Linked DNA regions of Homo sapiens: region 2 is linked to region 1. Evidence: fine-mapped QTL for protein levels in blood plasma. A gene starts in region 1. The other region holds a variant in brackets. All regions are shown on one strand. Distances are from middle to middle. Region 1 holds the start of ADAM23 (ADAM metallopeptidase domain 23). Region 2 overlaps ADAM23 (ADAM metallopeptidase domain 23).

Region 1 (8,471 bases):
ACTGTTATTAAGCAAGTCATCCTAAGATACAGCAGAAAGCAGATGGAACACTTTTTATCAACTACTTCAAGAGATGCTTAAAAACAGAAGTAAAAGGGAGGTCACAGAACACAAAGGGTAATTTCAAGGCACCCACCAAACAACAACACTGTCTATACCTGTACGGGAGCACTTTTAGAATCTTGCTTATCTCATTTTCCTGCCTCCTGGAGGATAGATCATGTCTTTTCATCCTTTTAACCTTTATCTCTTATCTTTGAATACTTAGCATACCGCTTGCATATGAGAAAGGTGCAACAAATGTTTATAGAGTTAAACTAATAAGAAAAATGCTTTCAAATACGATTTCTGTAGAAACATTCTTTTCAAAGTACAGTATAAAAGAAACCCAACTATTCCTCTAGGTAAGCGGTGGGTACAGGTTTAACAAACCTTATTATCACGGAAGTCAGGTATATTACAGTCAAACCACGTCCCACCAAAGAAAACAGCCACATAAGGTTAAACTATAAGGCAAGCATTAGTCATAGCCTCAAACATCTGAGTTATTAAAAAGTGCCACTGAAATTTCAAGTCTCTGCTGAGGAGGGCTTGAGCATTCTTTGAAACAGGCTTTGAGGCAGCTGTTTTTCCTTCCTCCAGCATCCTAAGCAAAGGTGCTGGAGTTTGAGAACTAACCACTTAACTCTAAAAGGTCTCATTCATAAGGAAAGCTATAAAAGCCTCAATGCATTTTATCAAAAGGGCCTTGGATTTCTCTTCTTTAAAGACAACACCCATTTCTCCTATCAATAAGACAAATGAGTTAGACATGACCTATTAGTCACCCCATTAAGTTATATAGGAGCTTATGGAGAAAAGGGCTGGCTGAGAACAGAGACACATTTATCTCACGGTGGGTAGCAGCCACTTCAAAATAATGTGAAAGAAAGTTCACCTCTCCAGTAATATTCAAGGTGAAGAAAGCACTTTCTCAGAGACCTAACTTGTAAAAAATAGTAAAAATTAAACATTCAGGTCACCTGAATTTTATATTAGCTGCTTTACAACATAGGAAAATCACCCAAAAGCCTTAAATTTCTAGCTCCCCATTTGTAAAATGGGGATAAATACTGTTACCACTCACCTATATTTTAGAAAACTAATAAAAAACAATGATGTAAACTGCAGATACTTTCTTAAATTCTAGATGTTTAGACAGTTAATTGCTAACTGTTGTTCTCACCTGAACAAGTACAGATCAAAATGAAACATTTAACATACAGACTCTATTTTCTGCTCCCGATAAACAACAGAAGAACCGATAATCCATTGTTTAAATCTGCTCGGGGTTCAAAATAATATTAATTCAAGTAAAGAATAGTAACACAGGGAAAAAGATCCCTTAAACTCTTTGGATATTAAACATTTGTCTTCTACTGATACCTTGGTAAATATCAGTTCCACTTTCTGAACTAACCTGAAAGTAAAGCAACTGCTCATAATCAATGCAGAGTAGGTACTGAAGAATTATGCCAATCAAAATTGGTCTTCATATTATGCAAATAATTTGTGTCTAGTCACCATAATCTTTTTAAATGTCAAATTGTTTACCTATTGAAAATACAACAGAAAATTTTTTTTTCCTCCTACTGATCAATTAAAGAAACAGACTGTTTAAACACTCAATTTCTAAGTGGAAAGACTGATGGAGACACTGCAGCCAAATAGCTTCTTGAAGCAATCTTGCATGTGCAGATTGAAAGCAGTTTTTATATCATGGGAGACAGTTTTATATCAAGGCAGAATACTGCACCCTTACATAAAGCCTCACAGAAACAAGTTAGAATCATAAACACATTCACTTAACTACTGTTCAGTGCCCAATGTACCTGAAAGATACATGGATATCATTTCAGGTATCAGAAAATTCTAGTTCCAGTTTAGTCAGAGAAGAGAAACAACAGTCTTATCCCAGTAGATCCCAAGTTAATTCCTTCCAGTTTCTCCCCTATCATAATATTAATTGCTTTCTTAATAAAATGCTGCAGTAAAATTTGTGAACTCAGATTCTGGCAGAAAATCAAATCAAAGGAAAACTCTTCATGATAGTTACTTTTGCATAGCCAGCCTCCTGCCTACCTTATTATGTTTTTGCTGGTGTCTTGCCTTTGTGTCAAGAACGTGATAAGGGCTTTCCGAGTCTTGGTTGATGTAATATATGAGTCTTGAAGGCAGTGTGATTTCTTTCTGCATTGCATTGCTGTAACTGATATTACTGCTGCTATTCTGTTGCAATGTATTGTCTTCATCTGCCAGGACTCCCAAATTTTTTTCTGCAGTTTCATTCCAATGCGGAGCTGGTGGAGGTAGGGGGGTGGGGGAGCAGAAAATACAAACATACACAAACACACACATATTTACCCCATAAATACATAAGCACTAAAATGCATTTTTCCTTTAATTTCAAACACAAAGTTTTCTATTTATAAGCAGTTAAGAAGTAGAGCTAGAGTAAAGCAAGTTATTTCAACAATAAAATGGCCTGGAGAAGTTAATAAATAGCCAATAAGGCTTATACAACTGTGCACTATTTATTTTGATTTATGTCTTATATATACATTTCTAGTCAGACTCAAATCTATACTTCTAAGTGTTGGGGGGGGGGTAGAATGAACTTGAGGGAAGAAGAGTCATTAAATGAACATGTTCAGGGGTCCTGCCCCCGATCTCCACCCCTTCTCTGAGTCCACAGAAGCACAACTCTACTCTGCCTAGTGGCATCCCATCCAAGAGCTAAGAACGCTCCTAAGATAACTTGAGTACTGAATTTATGGATACCGAATATTAATCGACTCTTTTAACAAAATGGACAATTCCCTTCTCTTTTAACTTTAAGATGAGCAAACATACTTTGCCATGTAGGGATACAGATGCTGGCAGCTTCCCAATTTCTTTTTATTTTCCTGACAAAGCCAGCTTTCTGCTTTCAGTGACTTCCAATCATCAATATATAGAAGATGGTATTATATTAATTGTTCATTATAATGACAAGCACTTTGAGAAATCAGAACCAAAGGTCGTGCATGAAGTATGTCTTCAGCACCTTAATTCTTTGGTCCCCGAAGTGTGCCTCCCCCACCTTAATTCCAACCGCACTGAATGCGCCGGATACGAAATTTGAGGAAACAGCCCATTACCACTATTATCACTACATCCTCCCCGCATTCACATTAAGGTTCCACCACGCAAGTAGCAACTTGCTCCCTCGCTGTATTTCCCATCCACTGGTTGCCCCTCCGCAAGTTGCACAGAGATCGCTGAGGGACCCAGGATCCACTAAACACCTCCCAGTGGAACCAACAAGAATTGGAATGGGTTTTTCGCGAATGCAACAGAAATGGACTTCCAAAAGTGAACTGGGATGAATGGGGGTTTGGGAACGAGAAGGGTGGAAAGACAGGCAGGGAGGGAAGGAAAGGCCGAGCCGGGGACAAGCCCGGAGCACACGGACCCGCGCGCCCTTCGCTTTCCTCTGCAGGGCCCCGCGGGAAAGCCAACGCAAAGGGCACGGGGCCATACCCACCGCTGGGCGCAGCAGCCCCCCAGGCGCGGGGCCGGGACGAGGCGGCGAGCGGAGGCAGCAGGAGAAGGACGAGAAGCAGGCGGCAGGGCGGCGTGCGGGCCGGGGCGCTGGCAGGCACCGAGCCGGCGGGGCCGCGTTGGGGGCCGCAGGAAGCGCCGGCAAGGCTGCAGCCCGCCAGGGGCGGCTGCCGCGAGCTGCTGCCGGGCGGCTTCATGGCTCATAGCTCCCGGGCGCCGCTCCGTGTGGCCGGCGAGAGCGCCGGGCTAGCTGCGGGGCGGCCGCGGGCGGAGCCGGTCACGCCGGCTCGGCGCGCATGGTGCCGCGGCGGGCAGGGGGCTCCGGGCTCGGGGCACGGGGCGCGGGGCTCGGGGCTGGGCGGCGCCCCCTTTCCCGGCTCGCCTAGCCTCGCAGCCACTCCCGGGGCGGGACGCAGAGGAGTCCAGGGGTCCTCGCCGCTCCGCCAACTTGGAGCCTCCCCAGCGGCTACTCCCTCCCCCGGCGGGCGCGGCCGCTTCAGCGACTGCGGGGGCTGCCGCCGGGCCTGAGGATGCTGAGGCGGCGCGCGGGAGCGAGCGGCGCGGGGACGCGCGGGAGCGAGCGGCGCGGGGACGCGCGGAGCGGGCGTGCGCCCCGCCCCCCGAGAGCGCGCCCGAGCGGGGCTTCGGGTGCTGATGCTGTTGCTGGATGCTGTGCTGCTGCTGTTGCCTGGCCCGGAACGCACTGCGCATGCTTTGTTGGGGGGCGGGGAAGGGGGTAAAGCAGCAGAGTGATGCAGCAGCCCAAGCAGCATCGGAGGTGACGGGTGGTACCTCAAAAGATGGGGGCGGTGGAGGGGGAGCCGGCAGTCACGGATAAGCCAGAAGAAAGAGAGTACGGGGGTTTCCAGGCCAGAGACAGGGATGATCGGGAGAAAACAACCAGCCGAAGTCCACCTGCCTTTTCCACCACCCCAGACTTCACATACCCTCTCCTATTCCAACCTCTTCCTGCTCTGGATAAACTAAGGCCACGCATCTCCTTCTTAATCCCTTATATATTTGCTTCCTGCATGTAAATATAAAGGATTGCAGCCGGGGAGGTAAAAATAGCGCGGCTCCTCATTCAGATTGCCAGCAGCGGGTGGGACTGCGGCTGAGAAGAGCGTTTGCGCCGCAGGCTGGCGCGGAGTGGCAGGAATCCCCCGCGCAGGGGCGCTCTGCCCCGGCCTGTGTCCTCCCTGCCGGTGCCTGGGGTCTTTGAGGAAAGCACAAGAAGCCGGACGGTGTTTGCTCAAAAGTTCAGAAAGTATGACTGGGCATATTCGGGAAGGACTTCGACATTCTGGCGGGGAAGCAATACAGAGATTAGAAACCAAGTGTGTGGCAGCTATCTTGGGAAATCCGTTGTTTGTCAACCACGGGGATGGGCACACATTTAGGAGGACACATTTCTATTTTTGAGATCCAGTCCTGACTTCTGCAGAGGAAAGGGGAAGTTTTCTCTCGTTGCTGTAAAAAATGTAAATCCCTGACTTCGGTGGGTTCGCAGCCACTAAATCTGATGGCTTCAGATAAGAGTCTGTGGCATATTTCTGCCCCCAAACTCTCATAATGCAAGCATTCATTTATTCACCCTCCCAATGACAATCTGAGTGATAACAATGTTGTCTTACTCCGACATCCACGGGGTGAGGGCTGGGGTGGAGAATTCCATGATTAAAAGAAAGAATGTGGGTATAAAAGTGCCATGGCCATGACAGAACTCAGTGTTAGCCATCATCTTCTCCACTCACACTTAACAAAGAGAAAAGAAGAAGACATATACGCGCGCGCACACACACATTACAAAACTGTTAGGTAAATACTGAGATAACTTCCTTTCTATGTTGAGCTAGGATATTATTATCACATATTTATTCCTGTAAATTTGTAATTGTTGCTACCTCCCCCATGTGAGGGCAACAACAGTTTTCCCTTCTGCACACCATTGTGTCCCTAGGACCTCACACAGTGTCTGAGGCACAGAGAAATCGCTTGGAAAATATGTACTAAATGAATAAAGAAATGGGTGATACACACAAGCAGAAGTCACACTTGGGGCAGGCTAGTGAACACTCTAGCCCCACCGGAGTGCCCACTGCAGGTCAATGTTCTTAGGGTTGTCTCCCTCAAGTCAAGTATTCTCTGGCTAGGTTTTCCAAATTTATATTTGACACAATATGCATCCTGAAAAAGGGCCTGAGAGAAAGCAAGCCAGAAAGGAGATGTACAAGCAATGAGAAGGGAGAGGGAAATGAAAGGTGCAAAGCACCCAGATGCAAGTTACTTGAAAGGCATCTCTTGCAATTCAGTGACAACCTCTTAAAGTCTGTTCTGATAAATAAACCTATCAGCCAACCTGGACTGACCAAACCCACCCACCAGTTACAACACATCATTTCATGCACTTGGGGTATGGAATGAGGATTCAATATAGTTTCTTTTTTTCTTTTTTTTTTTTTTTTTTTGAGATGGTGTCTTGCTGTGTCACCCAGGCTGGAATGCAGTAGTGCGATCTCAGCTCACTGCAACCTCTGCCTCCCAGGTTCAAGCGATTCTCCTGCCTCAGCCTCCCAAGTAGCTGGGATTAGCTGGGATTACAGGCACGTGCCACTACACCCGGCTAATTTTTGTAGTTTTAGTAGAGACGGGGTTTCACCATGTTGGCCAGGCTGTTCTCAAACTCCTGACCTCAGGTGATCCACCCACCTCAGCTTCCCAAAGTGCTGGGATTACAGGCGTGATCCACCGCACCTGGCCTCAATATAGTTTCTAATAAGGGGTTGGGGTATTTACAAAGAGGGATGTTGTCTTATGTACTATAGTCAAAAGACTGCATTTATTTACAGAACTTTAATGGTTACAGACATTGCTAGAGTCAAAATAAGATATCAATAAATGAAATAATGAGTCAGAGAAAGAGTACATTACTTAGAAAAAATTTACTGGAAGTTTAGTCTTTAAGCCATATATTTAAGGGAAGGTTAAAAACAGAATCAAATATTAACTGATTAAATAATTTAATTGGTCAACTTGGTAGAGTTAGTAATATTCTTATTAGGTAGTTCAGAATTTTTATTTTTATAGAGTTTACTTCTAAATATTCCCCTCTGTGCTTTCATAAGATTTAGTGACTTGCTTAATCACTTGCCACCTACTGCTTTGCTCTGTATTCGTGTATGTGCATATCATCATTCTTCCATCAAAAAATACTGAGAGCAAGGCTGTATCTTGGTCATCTCTGACTCCACAGCCTAGTATAGTACCTGGAATCAAATCAGCATTCATAGAGGGGCACTCACAGGTAGGAAACAGAGGGATTCAGCAAGATGGACTGGAATAAAGAAATATACCAGAAGCTTGAGTGCTATAATGGCCCTGGTTACCAATGTGTGTTGGATCCTAAGGCCATCAGAGGATCACTGGAGTGATCTAGTCACAGTGGCAGACATGGAGAAATGCTGCAGTCGTAGGTGAAGGCAGGTGGCCAGAAGGTCCATGGGAAGGAAATTACACCAGGCAATATGGACCCTAGGTAAGCACCATGAGGGGTGCATGTGAGCAATACCCAGGAAGGGTCGTCATACTGTTCACAAAAATGGTCCATTGGTCTGGTGAGGGAGGAGATCAGAAGGTCTCTATTTGCCAAAATCTGTTTCCAGTGGTAGAACTGGACCCACTTTGCAACCAGTGAGAAGACTGGGTCTGGACAGGAGCAAGCAAAGGACAGAAATAGAAATATTAGATGTAGCAGGCCTTGGCCTCAAGAGGGCTGAGATGCTAGGGGAGAAAGTAGAAGAAGGGGATGACAGAAGAGAGGTCCAGAGGGTAAAATAAGTAAAAAAGCAGGGGAAGGTAGCAAAGCAGACTTACAAGAGCAATTGGAATGGAATAAGCATTTGCCCAAAAAGTCAAGGTCAAAGAAGGTGTGCAGCAAATTAGTGGATGGTGCTGATACTAAGAGAGATCTAGGGAGTGAAAGCAAGAGCATGAACAAGCCTCAAACAGCAGCTCTGGCTCAAGAGCAGCTTATACCCAGGAGCTCGCTGGGACAGCCTGTGTTACAGAGCCAGCTAGAGAAGGTTTCTCAGCCTCCTTTTAGAATAGCTGTGAAGACTGATTTTACCAGCGGAAGTGGATACTTCAAAGGAGAAAAGACAATGCATTTCTTCATGAAAGTAAAAAGCGAGTGTGCTTCGTTATTGGTACTTGCCACGTGGTTCAGGAGTCAGCAAACATTTTCTGTACAAGGCCAGATAATAAACATTTTGGGTTTTGTGGGCCATATGGTCTCTGCTGCATTTTTTTTTCTTTACAAACCTCTAAGAATGTGAAAACCATGCAGCCTACAGGACCTGGTTTGTCAGCTAGCCATTTTTAAATCTCTCTCTCTCTCTCTCTCTCTCTCTCTCTCTCTCTATATATATATATATATATATATATATTTACCTTAAATATATATACCTTATAATATATACTATATATATACACCTTAAATATATATATATGTAAGGTTAAATTTTTTTCATCAACTGTATTATGTCCTGTGCATATAAGCAGAAAAAGCGAAGGAAGCGTGTGCCACAATATAGAGGGCTCTAATTCTAGAAAAGATTGCTCTCCATTGTAATTTAGATAGTTGTTTAATCAGTAAGTAGTCACTAAATTCTCAAAAGATGTTCATCATTTGAAGGGATCCCTTAGGAAAGAAGTATTTCTCCTTTTGAAGCCAATTCTCAGATGATGATAATGGGAGAAAAGTCAGAAATCATTCACCAAAAAAAAAAATACAGATGTCAAAAAGATTCTAGACATTTCTTTTGTTTTTCCAAGCTATACTTTCTTGTGAGTAGGGGATGCTGAATGGATGCTACAGCCATGAGTGGTCA
Region 2 (8,471 bases), 32 kb before region 1:
ACTATAAATAAACCATGACTTATACTTTCAGTCAAGCACACTGCCAAATCAGATAGTCACTCAATAATAATCCATAAAATGTAAAAAGGAAATTAACAAATATTAAATTTTAAATACAGAACAATGAGAAACAAGGCTCCTAAATCCTTAATGCCATAGGACACCAAGTCAAATTCCAAACAACCTTCTAGAACAGGGTCACCATACTTGTGGGCTTCCTGTATCCATACAACTATGAGTGAGAGAGAGAGAGAAAGAGAGAGAGAGAGAGAAACTTCTGTCAAGTGTGGTCTCTGTTATCCACAACAGAACCTCTATTCAATACAAATATCCACTAGTCTTCAAATTCATTCTGTACCTTGAAGCATTAATTTTTGCATAAAGATATTTATATTGATGAATAATTTGTACAAGGAGAGATTTTTCAGCTCTAGATCAAAAAAGCTTTAAGTATGTAAAATTTACTTCCTAAGAATAAGATAAATCCTTAAGTATAGTTTCTCTTAAGAATATTATACAGTAGAGATGAGTTCATTAGTGGCACCCTGGTCTAAAAGAGCTGATAAATATACCTCCTTGAACATCTTTATAAACACTAAGAAGAACTTGACAGAGACTCAGTAAAAGGCTTATTTTATAGCAAATAAGTGATGTGACAAGTACAAACACTGACAACACTCTTGCAAAATAAGGTAATCTGGTGGTAAATGTAGTACCTTCATTTTACAGAATTGTAGGAGTTACACAATTTGATAATTGCTAGAATAGGTTTATACCAAGTCAATGTGACTAGCTTCAGTTTAATAGAATTTAATCAAAGAGCTAGTAAATCATACTGGGTTTTCCTTTTGCTTTTGCATTCAATCATTCCACACAAACATATTAAGTCCTGCTTTGCATATAAAGATAGCTGGGACACAGCTTCCGCCCTCTAAGAAGTGATGGTCTCCAGAGGGGCAGGTACAACTGTCAGCCTCAGCTTGTCTAATGGGCCACAGGGACCATGGCTGAACCCCATCCAGGCACAGAGAGGTGCAGAAAGGATCCACTGACAAGGTGCTATTTGAACAACAACTCAAAAGATGAATAAGAATCCACGTGTCAGAGAAAGAAAAGACACTCAAGGCATGGAGGAAAACATTTATAAAAATCGAGTCAAAATGAATGTGAGAAAAATAAGCTTTTTAAATTTTTTAAAAAATGAATATGGCCTGTAGGAAAATGGTTTTCAGATGAAATGTCAAACAATGAATCTGAAAAGGTGGGATGGAGACTGGCAGGCTTCACGTGACATGATCAGTGACATTTATGATCGCAAACAAGAACATGTGGCCAAGACAATGAGCCTTCTCCTAAATGGCCACTCCCTCAAACTCACTCAGCACCATTTCTGGCACACGCCATCATCATCATCATCATCATCATCATCATCATCATATCATTATGATTCAAACATCTTAACAGATTACTCTCCAGAACTGAAGCAATTTATCATGCCAGCAACAAGATATCTGTTTATCCATAGGAAAAAAAAAACCTGATTTTATTACCTTTATCAGTAAGAATGTTTTAATATTTTAATTCTAAGAGGAAGCACATTTTCTATAAAATGATTTAAGATTTCCTCACCATATTCATCTTCTTTGTCAATGTATCAAATGGAATTAGTTTCATCTAATACATTTATATCCATTTTAAGTCATTTAAATATATTGATGTATGTTATTTTGCTTACATTCTGTTTCTCTTTCCATTGCTATACATTCTGCAAGTGCTTAGACAGTACAGATTCTTCTCTATACCAAAATAAATACCTGACAAGTGCTACTTTTCCCTATCATTTTATTTCTGCCCTGTCTTAGACACAATTAAAATAGTGTTTAACTTCTGGATGCTATGCAGTCCATTTCAATTTGTCACTTTTTCTTTAACAAAATATTACACAGTTTTTATATATGCCCATTTTAAATGTTTTCAAATCATGTAAAGTGAGTCATTATTTTATAAACCACATTGTTGTTTTATATATATATATATATATATATATTTTTTTTTTTTTTTTTTAACAGAATATTGGCTTGCTTCTTCCAAATGGTAGAAAAGTTAGAAGAATGGCTGGGATGAGTACAAAGTCTTACAATATACAGCCATATCATTTTTAGTTGATTTAACAGATTTTAGAGATAATGAACTGACCAGCATCACTGAAATCCATTAAAAATACAAAGACTACCTACAGTATTGTTCTTCTTTTACAAAGGAACTATACAGTGAGGTTTAGAAATGTGTTCAGTAATACAAAATCAGATCCTAGGAATGCTTCAGAGAAGAGTTCATGAACCACATATTAGGTCATAATCAGTTATTTTCTCTTTCGGGATATCTGTTAAACAGCCTTGCTTTTATAAGGACATTCACTATAATAGCACTGGGGAAGAATGCAGGGTTTTATAGCCAAAGAACATCATTTCACAACAAGAATGAGCATGTCCCTGGGCTCAGAATTACCACCCTGAAGGACTGAGAACAGCTGCTGCCTAACCACTTTAGTATTTTTCTTTTAACTCAGAATCTGGCACAGGGAAATTACAGGAGCTCTGAAAAGAAAAACAATTAAACTCAATTATATACACAAACCTCCTTCACTGGAGAACAGTTTACACGTCTTAGCAATGTGCTTTTGTTTTTATTTTTTCTTTCTAGTGGATGGCATCTAATGGTATATTAAATAACTTTAAGAAAGCTATTGGGTTCTTCGGCTAAGACTTGTTTCTCACCTTATCATCAAGCAATGTTATGACATTAAGCAATCATACATGCTCAACTCTGTGTAGGGTACATTAAATAGGCTCAATAGATACTATTGTGTTTTCTTGGGACTTATATTCTAGAATAGCTAATATAGACATAAAAACAAGAAGAAAAATAACTCTATATCTAATCATAAAAATAAAAGGCAGCCATTTGCAGGATATACATGTTTTCATGCAACTATGTTTCACACATAATAGGTGTTCAAACAGTATTCTTCACTACTTGGCAAGAATTTGTGAGTTCTGTAGAGCGTACCCATAACTGGAACTGAAAATGGGAAATAACATTTTCCCAGAATTCAAAAAATATCATAAGGCTGAATTTCTACTAAATTGTAAAATTTAGTAGAAATTGAGCAACTTGGGTAACTGAGTGCCTACACTATGGATCATCACATCTTCTGAGACATATATTTCACCTTAGTATGCTCTAAACCAGTGGTCCCCAACCTTTTTGGCACCAGGGTCCAGTTTCACGGAAGATAATTTTTCCACGGATGGGGTGGAGTGGGGGATGGTTTCAGGATGAAACTGTTCCACTTCAGATCATCAGGCATTAGATTCTCATAAGGAGTATGCAACCTAGATCCATCGCACGTGCAGTTCACAATAGGGGTCATGCTCCTATGAGACTCTAATGCCACTGCTGATCTGACAGGAGGTGGAACTCAGGCAGTAATGCTCACTCACCCACCACTCACCTCCTACTGTGTGGCCCAGTTCCTAACCGGCCACAGCCTGATATCAATGTGACCTGGAAGTTGGGGACCCCTGCTCTAAACTATAGGTGGTGTGAGAAACATAACAGAATTTGGAAGTGGTTTCCTGATCTTAAGATATATTCAGTTTATTTAGGGAGATATTCATTTAAGTAATGAACGAAACATGCCCAAAGTGGAATATCAATAGACAAGAAAATGTTTTACAAACAGAGGTAAGAAGCCCTTTAGGGTATCAAGCAGGCCTAAGCAAACACCAGTGGAATGATTCACATTCAACTTCGTAAAGAAGAGGGCTACAGGTCTCGGCTTCAGGAAAGAGGGCATTAGAGACCGCAAAAGTCAGTAAGCAGATGCCTGTCTTCTCTGTTTATTCTAACATAGAAAAAACAATGTTTATTCTATGTCTGTTAAAACACTGAATACAGCAGCTACACTGTATACATGTGACAGGTGTGTGAGTGTGTGTGTGTAACCATAACCTTTTCAGGAAGTATTTTATTTCCTTTATCTTGTTGCATACGGTTCTTTTCCTTACCTTTACAGTTTTTCAATAGACCCTTCAAGAGTTTCCACTCCATTATCTTCAAATATGGTGGAGAAAGGTCATAGAATATAAAACATCACCTTTTTTTGAGATTCAGGACATTTTATAATGTTTCAGAGAAGGCAGATTTGAAAATTCACCAACTAACAAGATGGGAGGAGGAAAATTCGCTAATTTGATGCTAGAGGGACCCTGCCTTTGTCATCATGGGTTGAGCTGCTGAGAACAAGAGTCCACTTCACCAGGAAGACTTTCATCAGCGTGGCTGTTTGGTATGTTTTTCTTTTCATACGAAAACAGTAGGCACAGAATCCAGCATCCCAGATAATTAAATATCAATGAGAATAAAATGTCAACTTTAAATTGAAATAAGTTTGAGGAAAAGAAGTCACTTCTTTTCAATCACAGAGGTTTTTCTAAAGAGGACTAGTTTGGACCTATCCTGTAGCT[A/G]GAGAAACATGAAAGTCCAGCTTGTGAATCTTTTTCTGTATAATGCAAAAATCCAAATATGTAAATATATCTTAAAAGTTTTGAAGTCCAAAAGAAAATATCAACAGACCATTTTTAATTGTAATTTTGTTCTAATCCCTCATTCTAAATTGATACACTGGTGATTGCACAGGTTTGTGTTATGATAAAAATAATAATGCCTCACATTTCTTACATTTTAATCATCTCAAAGTACTGTCATGTCTATCTAGAACACAGCACCCCATGCAATTGGTACAGCAGACATTTTTATTACCCTTTTATAGAAAAGAAACTTTTTTAAAGGGCAGAGAGAGATTAACTAATGTTATTGTCCAAGGTCATAGATCAAAGGAAGAAACATGAGGTGTTAGTTTTAGTTAAATGACAAAAAAGTGCCATACTTATGCCAGAAGTCCTTACATCTGCAAGCCTCAATGTTTTCCGGTCAATAAAATACAAATAATAATAGCTTAACAACATGATGTGTGCGAGGATTAAATAATACAATAATGCAACTGACGGCCAGGCGCAGTGGCTCATGCCTGTAATCCCAACACTTTGAGAGGCTAAGGCAGGAGGATCGCTTGAAGCCAGGAGTTCAAGACCAGGCTGGGCAACATGGTGAAACCCTGCCTCTATGAAAAATACAAAAATTAGCCAGGCATGGTGGTGCATGCCTCTAGTCCCAGCTACTCAGGAGGCTGGGGCAGGAGAATCACCTGAGCCCAGGTGTTTGAGGCTGCAGTTAGCCAAGATCATGCCACTGCACTCAGTCTGGGTGACAGAATGAGACCCATTCTCAAAGAAAATAGCAATAATAATAATGTGACCAATGTAGCTCAGCCACAGTGAAAAAGCTCAGTCATTTAGGAAGGAGACAGTAAAGTAGGAAAAAGAGAAAAAAGAATACAGTAACATTTTGGAAGGGTATCAATCAACCCCACCCTAAAGTTCCCTCCCAGGATAGTTAGCCACCATCTAGCAAATTCCAATGTGCATTTACACTCAGCAAAATTTGCAAATTTTGTATTTTTATTGCTAATTACCATTATGTATTATGCTTTGACCTTGTTCAAGTTGTCATGTCTTCAAAATAATATGAATCATTTTCCACAGAAGTGAAACAGCTGCAAATGCTACATGAAGGCGGTTCTGCAAATTAGGGTAATTTGCTGAACATTCTTGCCATGATGCATTTAAACAGGTAGTTTGAAGGAGAAAAATATTATCATGTTTTCTTCTACCATGTTCCAATTGATAGTATTATGGGCTAACCAGCAACAATTTGTATTAAATACCTACCTTATGTAAGATACTAGAGCAGATTAGTATAGGAGAGTTAGTTTTGTTTTTCTGGTTTTTTTTTTTTGTTTTTTTTTTTTTGAGACAGGGTCTCACTCTGTTGCCCAAGTTGGTGTGGAGTGGTGCAATCACAACTCACTGCAGCCTTGACCTCCTAGCTGAAGCAATCCTCCCACCTCAGCCTCCCAAATAGCTGGGACCACAGGTACATGCCACTGCTCTCAGCTAATATTTTTATTTATTTTTTCATAGAGATGGGGTCGCACCATGCTGTCCAGGCTGGTCACAAACTCCTAGGCTCAACAATTCACCCGCCTTGATCTCCCAAAAAGTGCTGGGATTATAGGTGTGAGCTACCATGCCTGGCCGAGAATTAACACTTAGATCAAAAAGATTATAATATGGTTAAGGAAATCAAATGAGTAACTGAAAAGAGTGAAAAATATAATATGTCAATTAAATAAGAATCGTTATTGTTGTTGTTGTTGTTGTTATTATTATTATTATTATTATTATTATTTTAGAGATGGGTCTCACTGTGTTGCCCCAGCTGGTCTTGAACTCCTGGCCTCCTCAAGCAATCCTCCCATCTTAGCCACCCAAAATGCTGAGATTACAGGTGTGAGCCACTACCCCTGGCATAAATATTATTTGTAAAGATACCACACACAATATAAGCATGATTAATTACCAAATTTGGAGTAAGGGCAACAAGCGCATTTGAATTTGTGGAGTGAGTCTGCTGGGGGCTGGAGAGAGCTGAGAATGGCTTATGAGGAAGACTTTCTCCGCATTTAAAGAAAGAATTCAGACAGCTCTTCTAGGATTTATTTAATAGAATGAAATTATAAAGTGTTAATAAGTATTTGCTAACAAATAAATGCTTAAGAAACATGCTTTTAAAGTAAAACACAAGATGCCTTCCATTCTGGAGTGTTATACTGCAATGTGGATTGTGGTGTGAGTTAAACATGACAGTTTATCATAAAATAAAGCATTTTACAAGAATGACAAGTAGGGGGGAAACATACATGCCCGAAAAATGCCCGAAAACATACATGCCCGAAAATGTTAATCAATCTATCTTTTGGCCTTAAATTAGGAAGCTTAAGTCATACCGTTTGAAGGCTATTACAGAAACAAGACCAAAGCATCAACAAAGCACACTCTTCTCACAACCCACGATGAACATCTCCTACTTAAAGGAAGCAGATCACCGTGTGACTTTGTTCTCTGTGCCAACCTAGCCGAAAAAGATGGAACTTCTACTCTAAAAGAAATCTAGCCAATATTCGATTATGCGATCTGATGGTACAGAAAAAAGGAAAGCTTGGATTTATGGATTTGTCAATTTTAACTTCTGACCAAATCTTATACAAGAGCTCTTTTCTAAATAAATCAATTTTAAAGAGATTCCAAATTCATCTTCCTCTCTTTTCTTATGTACCTCAGTTTGAGGTACTCTTTTTTTTTTTTTCCCCTGAGATGGAGTCTCGCTTTGTCATCCAGGCTGGAGCACAGTGACATGATCTCAGCACCACAACCTCCGCCTCCTGGGTTCAAGCAATTCTCGTGCCTCAGCCTCCCAAGTAGCTGGGACTACAGGTGTGCGCCAATACACCCAGCTAATTTTTGTTTTTTTTTTAGTAAAGACAGGGTTTCACCATATTGGCCAGGCTAGTCTTGAACTCCTGACCTCAAGTGATCCACCCACCTCGGCCTCCCAAGGTACTGGGATTACAGGCATGAGCCACTTCGCCCAGCCGAAGTACTCTTAAATATGCAAAAGATGGACGCTGAAGAGAAAGAGGAAGTAGGCACTGATAATCCAAATACATATTCCAGTCAATCACATTAGCCACACTAAATATTTCTTTTTAAAATTCTTCATGGCCAGCCAAAGAAGAGAAGCTACATTTAATCTTATGGTGGGTATGGGGGAGGTCAAACTAAGATTTTCCCTAGTGATTATTTAGCAACCCTGGAGGACTCTGTAACAATACACTTTCACTGACAAAGCATCCTTGGACATGTATATGAAACGTCTTCTATACATTTACTGTTAGTGATTAATGTTTGCTGGATATTAAACTGGCAATGCCAACTAAGGAGAAAGACTGAATTACAAGCCTTTGGAGCACTTGCTATTTAAAATGGGTAAAGCAGCACAAGTATCACTACAGCAGTATTATTTCACTTTCATATATTTTTTGAAAGATGAGTAAAAATACAACTATGACAACAGTTACCATGGAAGCTTCTTGGTAACTGCCTTCCTGAATAGTAACATTTAATGTGGTGCATTAATCTAGTAGCTGAGGTGTGATTCACCTTGTTCTTTTTCCTCGTCAATTCCTACATCACCAAACTGCACAACTCCAAGGAACACTTCTCTCTCTGCTAACACTTGTGTCATAAAGCAAGAACATATTTTGTCTTTCTAGCCAGAATTATTGAACACCCACTAAATAATTTAAATAAAAGAATGGAAATAAAATATAAGTTTTGGAAAGCAAGACACCAAGCACCATGCTTAGTGTCTGTGACTCATTACATGGCAGTTTTTTAAATTTGCTTATATAATGTGAATACTATTCTAAAAGAAAAAAAAAGCCTCAT

What was found. PIP is the chance, under the fine-mapping model, that this variant and not a neighbour inherited with it causes the effect. Protein levels are from antibody-based Olink assays in UK Biobank. Linkage for the fine-mapping came from a reference panel and not from the study's own genotypes, which makes the PIPs less certain.
Region 2: its variant is fine-mapped to the plasma level of the ADAM23 protein (UK Biobank, PIP above 0.99).

The regions. Positions count from the first base shown.
Region 1 is chr2:206,439,175-206,447,645 of GRCh38, reverse strand. ADAM23 (ADAM metallopeptidase domain 23) reads right to left here and starts at 4,114. Exons shown (of 26, transcript NM_003812.4): 1 at 3,566-4,114; 2 at 2,122-2,339. The coding sequence starts at 3,779. RefSeq lists a silencer at 3,540-3,669.
Region 2 is chr2:206,471,474-206,479,944 of GRCh38, reverse strand. The region is part of intron 2 of ADAM23 (ADAM metallopeptidase domain 23); the gene reads right to left. Among named protein-coding and RNA genes, the nearest start is that of ADAM23, 32 kb to the right of the region's middle. The variant A/G (reference allele first, on the strand shown) is at 4,530.